2 linked regions of the Homo sapiens genome follow. The protein of the gene in region 1 purifies or fractionates together with the protein of each later gene. This does not show direct contact. Each region holds a gene or a part of one and is shown in the gene's direction. Other genes may lie near its edges.

The links. Proteins that work in one complex are often made in the same cells at the same time.
Region 2: the proteins of SCGB1C1 (region 1) and SEMA6A purify together in Homo sapiens (affinity purification with mass spectrometry; one large-scale study listed by BioGRID and IntAct). This does not show direct contact.

Annotation. Positions count from the first base shown.
Region 1 is NC_000011.10:191,613-195,292, forward strand, and holds SCGB1C1 (secretoglobin family 1C member 1 precursor), read left to right. Parts: upstream 1-1,487; coding exon 1,488-1,542; intron 1,543-2,099; coding exon 2,100-2,299; intron 2,300-2,805; coding exon 2,806-2,838; 3' UTR 2,839-2,963; downstream 2,964-3,680.
Region 2 is NC_000005.10:116,445,824-116,449,323, reverse strand, and holds part of SEMA6A (semaphorin-6A isoform 2 precursor), read left to right. Parts: intron 1-1,512; coding exon 1,513-2,711; 3' UTR 2,712-3,500. UniProt on the Homo sapiens protein: Cell surface receptor for PLXNA2 that plays an important role in cell-cell signaling. Required for normal granule cell migration in the developing cerebellum.

The DNA of each region.
Region 1 (3,680 bases):
GGCAAGTAAACACATTGAAACCACAATGTGGTTACAATTGAAAACCACAATGAGATAGCACAGCTGGTCTATATCTGTTAGAATTGCTAAACTCTTTTAAAAATGACAAATTGCTGAAGGAAAAACAAGAACTCTTTTCATTGCCAGTGGAACACAGCGTATAAGACCAAAATACGCCACCCCAAAACCTAACCCTAACCCTAACCCCTAACCCCTAACCCTAACCCTAACCCTAACCCTAACCCCTAACCCCTAACCCTAACCCTAACCCTAACCCCTACCCCTAACCCCTAACCCTTACCGGTGACCCTACTGTATCCCTGACTCCTAACCAACGTTGATCCCTAACCCTAAACCCCTTACTGTAACTATAATCTTCATCCCACCCTATCCCTAGCCTTAGTGCCATCCCCCAGGCTTTTTCCAGGATGGGATTTTATGTGATTGTTTCGAATAGGTGGAAATCTCTGCTCATTTAGGAGTCGTTCAATGTAACAAGGATCTTGGTCTTCACAGAGACCCTAAACGCGTGTGGCCCAGGGCCATGTGGATGCCATCAGCCACTAGGTGGCAGCAGGGGCCCTTTGGATTTGAACAATGCAGCTCAGTCAGAGGGCTGGACTGGGACACCCCTACTCATGGTCTCTCTTGGCATGGTTTTGTTTGGTGACTCCAGGTGTCCCAACCTCCTGTGTCCATTGTAATATGTCCTGGGACCATCTCCCCCAGGGCCTTCAACCTGGGGGGTTGAACCCCAGGATAGCAACCCCAAGCCCTCCTTGCTATCCTGGCTACTGATGGAAGATGTACCTCAAGCCTGTCCCATTCCTCACTTCCTGCTGAGACCTGGCCCCAACATGGCCAGCTCTATGTTCCTCAGACCCTCTCAGGCCACCTTCTCTCTTCTAGGCACTGTCACTGGGCTTCTCCCCACCCCATAGATCCACAGCCCCCAGGTAGTCCTACAGCTGTGTCCACTCGTGCAGCCTGCACCCCCTTCCCCTACTCGGCCACCCCATCTGAGTAGTAAGGGGCCCCTGCCTGATTGGAGACCCCCAGATGCAGACCCAGATCACACAGCACACTGATAAGAGGAGGGATTCGCACCTTAAAAGAAAGGCGTGGGACCAACCCCAGATCCCACCACTCTCGGCCTCAAGGGCAGGCATGACTAGAGGCCCTTGGTGGCCAGGACCCACTGCCTTCTTCACCGATCAGTTGGCATGGCCTCTCACCAGTGTTCCCTCCTAACACACCTGTTCTCTCTCTCACACACCCTAAAGCCGCTTGCCAACCACCTGTCACACAGCCACTCCATGCCTGTTGCTGCTTGGCACCCACTGGGGGCCAGGGATGTGAACAAACCTCATCTAAGCTGGCTGCCGGGTCCTAATGGGCAGGTCCGGTCCGCCCTCTAGGAGAGGTGCTGTCCGGTGAGGCATAAAATCCCGGGATTCTGGCTGGAGGCAGCTCCTGAGACTGCTGGCATGAAGGGGAGCCGTGCCCTCCTGCTGGTGGCCCTCACCCTGTTCTGCATCTGCCGTGAGTCTGTGCCACTGGGGTTTCCAGAACATTCAGGGGTGGGGGGGAGTGGGGGGTACCTGAGAAGGTAAAATCCTGGCATCGGGCCTCTGCAGTGAACACTCCACCTGCTTCTGTCACAGAAGTGGGCAAGGACCCTGCAGAACCCGCGCCCACCCTACTCCACCCCAACCAAGGACAAAGCCCAGCTGACCCAACACCAGCCCAGTGTCTCCTACCCCAGCCCAGTCCAGCCTGACCTGACCCTTCAAGCCTCTGGTCATAATAGCCTCTCATCAGGGGAAATTTCCCCCACACCAGGAGCTTAACTTTCCTTCCCTGGTGATCCCAGGGAATGCTGAGTGGAAATTGGAGCAGCTAAGATTAAGGGGGATGTGGAGGGGTCTTCGGGCAAGGTGGAGTTGGAGGTGTTGTGGAGGAAGCCCTGGGGAGGAGAGGTGGGCATTGAAGGGGAAGGTCTGGAGACCATGGAGGTTGGAGCCCTGGGGCAGGTCCAGGGCTGTGGTTGCACCAGAGTCACCCTGTCCTGTCCTGGCATCATCTCGCTCGTGATGCAGGGATGGCCACAGGGGAGGACAACGATGAGTTTTTCATGGACTTCCTGCAAACACTACTGGTGGGGACCCCAGAGGAGCTCTATGAGGGGACCTTGGGCAAGTACAATGTCAACGAAGATGCCAAGGCAGCAATGACTGAACTCAAGTCCTGTATAGATGGCCTGCAGCCAATGCACAAGGCGGAGCTGGTCAAGCTGCTGGTATGAGGGCGGCGGGCACCCCATTTTCTAAAGATCTGCAGCCTTACCAAGACCACCCAACACAGCACCCACACAGCCTACCCCACCCACAGACATCCACCACCCACAGACATTGCACCCGCATCAGCCAGCTCAGGTGGACACCCCAGACCTCCTGTCCACCGAGCAGCCCCCAGACTCCATAGACCTCCTCCCCAGTCTGTGGGATACTCCTCCATGCACACATGTGAACATACACAGAGATCCAAACACAGGTGCAGACATGAAATGTACACTGCGTGCACACATGTATAAACACGTTCACACCCACATGCTCACACTGGGATATGCACACACATACATGTGTGCACACCATCACATGTGCACACACACCTCCCAGCTGCTGGGAGGAGATAGGCAGCAATATGCCAGACCCCCCCCCACTGAGGGCCTTGCTTGCCTGATGGAGCTGTGGCTCTCCACTTATTGAGCACAGCCCTCTTAGTCCACATGTGTCTGCCTTCCAGGTGCAAGTGCTGGGCAGTCAGGACGGTGCCTAAGTGGACCTCAGACATGGCTCAGCCATAGGACCTGCCACACAAGCAGCCGTGGACACAACGCCCACTACCACCTCCCACATGGAAATGTATCCTCAAACCGTTTAATCAATAAAGCCTCTTCCGCAGCTCAGGCTCCTGTCTCTGCCCCCACAGAGGGGCACACAAATGGGGACATCAGGAACACACTCGGGGCCACAGCCACACACACAGACCCACATACAGAGGATCCCACTCAAGGAGCACACGTGCGAAAGTCCCCACAGAGGGACACACAAATGGGGACATCAGGAACACAGGGCCACAGCCACACACACAGACCCACATACAGAGGATCCTACTCAAGGAGCACACGTGCGAAAGTCCCCCACAGAGGGACACACAAATGGGGACATCAGGAACACAGGGCCACAGCCACACACACAGACCCACATACAGAGGATCCCACTCAAGGAACACACGTGTGAAAGTCCCCACAGAGGTACACACAAATGGGGACATCAGGAACACAGGGCCACAGCCACACACACAGACCCACATACAGAGGATCCCACTCAAGGAACACACGTGTGAAAGTCCCCACAGAGGTACACACAGGGTCCACACAGGAGCAGGCACACCACAGGCAAGACCCAAAATGGAAATCCAGGCAGACGCCACGTAGGCAGGTGGACAGAGCACAGAGCCAGACAACACTGCGTGGTCGTCCGGAGGGGGCGTCTGGAGGGGGCGTCCGGAGGGAGACGGGCGGCAGAGGCAGCGGTATGAGGTGGGAGCCCCAGAAAGAGGAAGTGTCCAGGACTGGGTGGACACAGACCCCATGTCGCCCATGGGCTAGGTCAGGG
Region 2 (3,500 bases), on another chromosome or scaffold:
AGAGAAGGTACCTTTTCTGTCTTGCTATCATTTCCATAATAGGAACAATGTTTACATTTCCTCAGCCCATGCAGTGCCTCTAATGTATTCATGTTCTTTCACTCTCCAGAGGCAGGAATTGAGGTATTAGAGATTTTATTTTTTAGCGACTGCATCAAGCACTTAAGATCTGACAACTGTGATGTGTATTCTCACTTGGTATTAAAAAATAAAAGCTTCTGTGTTTGCATTTGATTAGAGTCACTCAGCTGGGTGGCTGATTAAGCAGGAATAGCGAAAGCACCTTCCTTCAGAAACACTGAATCCTGGTTAATGTAGTGTAAGATTACGGATGGGTGTAGTCACATAATTTTTATTAAATTGAAGAGATTAGCTCTGCTGAAAAATCCCACTGTGACAGCAAACTCTAGGTGCAATAATGGTACCTAACACTTCTCAAACCCACTACAGGGCCCCAAATGGTCTTATTTCTGAATCTTCTTTCAGTTCCAGTGAGAAAGCTTCATTCAAATATTCAGGATAGTTACCTGAAATTGAGTTTGCACTGTTTTTTTTTTTTTTTTTTTTTGAGAGGTGATGCAAAATCAGCACAAACATTTGTAGTCTGTGAACTTTAGCTATATTCTCTCAGTGTAAATAAAAATGACACACACTCTCTTTCCTCTAGTTGCTTAAAAGGCAAACACTTTTCCCCAGACGGAGGCTCCGGTGGCCACAAGGGGGCCGTCGGAAAAGATCCCAACTGGAAGCCCAGAGTGTGTGATTTGTTTGTCTAACATGCATAAAATTGTTGCCTCTTCCTCCAGACTCAGGATAACTTGGTTATCCCAGTTCTAGGAAGGGAAGGTTAAAAAGCCATAAAGAAGGAAAGAAAGATAACTTTTGAAAGCCAAAACCTCCCATATTCCCTGGAGTGAAGCAGAGTAGAAAGTGCAGGTACTGGAAAGAGTGAACAGCACTTTTCTTTCTTTCTTTTTTTGAAACGGAGTCTCGCTCTGTCACCCAGGCTGGAGTACAGTGGCCTGATCTCCCTTCACTGCAACCTCCACCTCCCAGGTTCAAACAATTCTCTACCTCAGCCTCCGGAGTACCTAGGATCACAAGCCCCCGCCACCGCGCCTGGCTAATTTTTTTTTTTTTTTTTTTTTTTTTTAGTAGAGACGGGGGTTTCACCATCTTGGCCAGGCTGGTCTTCAACTCCTGACCTCGTGATCCACCCGCCTCGGCCTCCCAAAGTGCTGGGATTACAGGCGTGAGTCACCGTGCCCGGCCTGAACAGCACTTTTTTAGACAACAAAGAAGGCTACAAATGGAGTCCATTTACATACTGCACACGAGGGGCTTGGGGAGGATTAATTGGTTAATGTTTGGCAAGCTGAGCTTGGAAGACAAGTTGTGCAGAGGTGCTGTTGTCACTTACTACTGTTATTAATTAACAAGGTGAATGCCAAGCAAAAACAAGCCTCGGGGTGTGCTTTCATTTCTTAACGCCATATGCGATGTCTATTGCAGGAGTGATTCGGGAAAGTTACCTCAAAGGCCACGACCAGCTGGTTCCCGTCACCCTCTTGGCCATTGCAGTCATCCTGGCTTTCGTCATGGGGGCCGTCTTCTCGGGCATCACCGTCTACTGCGTCTGTGATCATCGGCGCAAAGACGTGGCTGTGGTGCAGCGCAAGGAGAAGGAGCTCACCCACTCGCGCCGGGGCTCCATGAGCAGCGTCACCAAGCTCAGCGGCCTCTTTGGGGACACTCAATCCAAAGACCCAAAGCCGGAGGCCATCCTCACGCCACTCATGCACAACGGCAAGCTCGCCACTCCCGGCAACACGGCCAAGATGCTCATTAAAGCAGACCAGCACCACCTGGACCTGACGGCCCTCCCCACCCCAGAGTCAACCCCAACGCTGCAGCAGAAGCGGAAGCCCAGCCGCGGCAGCCGCGAGTGGGAGAGGAACCAGAACCTCATCAATGCCTGCACAAAGGACATGCCCCCCATGGGCTCCCCTGTGATTCCCACGGACCTGCCCCTGCGGGCCTCCCCCAGCCACATCCCCAGCGTGGTGGTCCTGCCCATCACGCAGCAGGGCTACCAGCATGAGTACGTGGACCAGCCCAAAATGAGCGAGGTGGCCCAGATGGCGCTGGAGGACCAGGCCGCCACACTGGAGTATAAGACCATCAAGGAACATCTCAGCAGCAAGAGTCCCAACCATGGGGTGAACCTTGTGGAGAACCTGGACAGCCTGCCCCCCAAAGTTCCACAGCGGGAGGCCTCCCTGGGTCCCCCGGGAGCCTCCCTGTCTCAGACCGGTCTAAGCAAGCGGCTGGAAATGCACCACTCCTCTTCCTACGGGGTTGACTATAAGAGGAGCTACCCCACGAACTCGCTCACGAGAAGCCACCAGGCCACCACTCTCAAAAGAAACAACACTAACTCCTCCAATTCCTCTCACCTCTCCAGAAACCAGAGCTTTGGCAGGGGAGACAACCCGCCGCCCGCCCCGCAGAGGGTGGACTCCATCCAGGTGCACAGCTCCCAGCCATCTGGCCAGGCCGTGACTGTCTCGAGGCAGCCCAGCCTCAACGCCTACAACTCACTGACAAGGTCGGGGCTGAAGCGTACGCCCTCGCTAAAGCCGGACGTACCCCCCAAACCATCCTTTGCTCCCCTTTCCACATCCATGAAGCCCAATGATGCGTGTACATAATCCCAGGGGGAGGGGGTCAGGTGTCGAACCAGCAGGCAAGGCGAGGTGCCCGCTCAGCTCAGCAAGGTTCTCAACTGCCTCGAGTACCCACCAGACCAAGAAGGCCTGCGGCAGAGCCGAGGACGCTGGGTCCTCCTCTCTGGGACACAGGGGTACTCACGAAAACTGGGCCGCGTGGTTTGGTGAAGGTTTGCAACGGCGGGGACTCACCTTCATTCTCTTCCTTCACTTTCCCCCACACCCTACAACAGGTCGGACCCACAAAAGACTTCAGTTATCATCACAAACATGAGCCAAAAGCACATACCTACCCCATCCCCCACCCCCACACACACACACACACACACATGCACACAACACATACACACACACGCACAGAGGTGAACAGAAACTGAAACATTTTGTCCACAACTTCACGGGACGTGGCCAGACTGGGTTTGCGTTCCAACCTGCAAAACACAAATACATTTTTTAAAATCAAGAAAATTTAAAAAGACAAAAAAAAAAGAATTCATTGATAATTCTAACTCAGACTTTAACAATGGCAGAAGTTTACTATGCGCAAATACTGTGAAATGCCCGCCAGTGTTACAGCTTTCTGTTGCAGCAGATAAATGCCATGTTGGGCAACTATGTCATAGATTTCTGCTCCTCCTCTCTTTTAATGAAATAACGTGACCGTTAACGCAAGTAACTCTTTATTTATTGTTCACCCTTTTTTTCCTTAAGGAAAGGACTCTTCCAAATATCATCCTATGAACAGCTCTTCAGAAAGCCCATTGAAAGTTA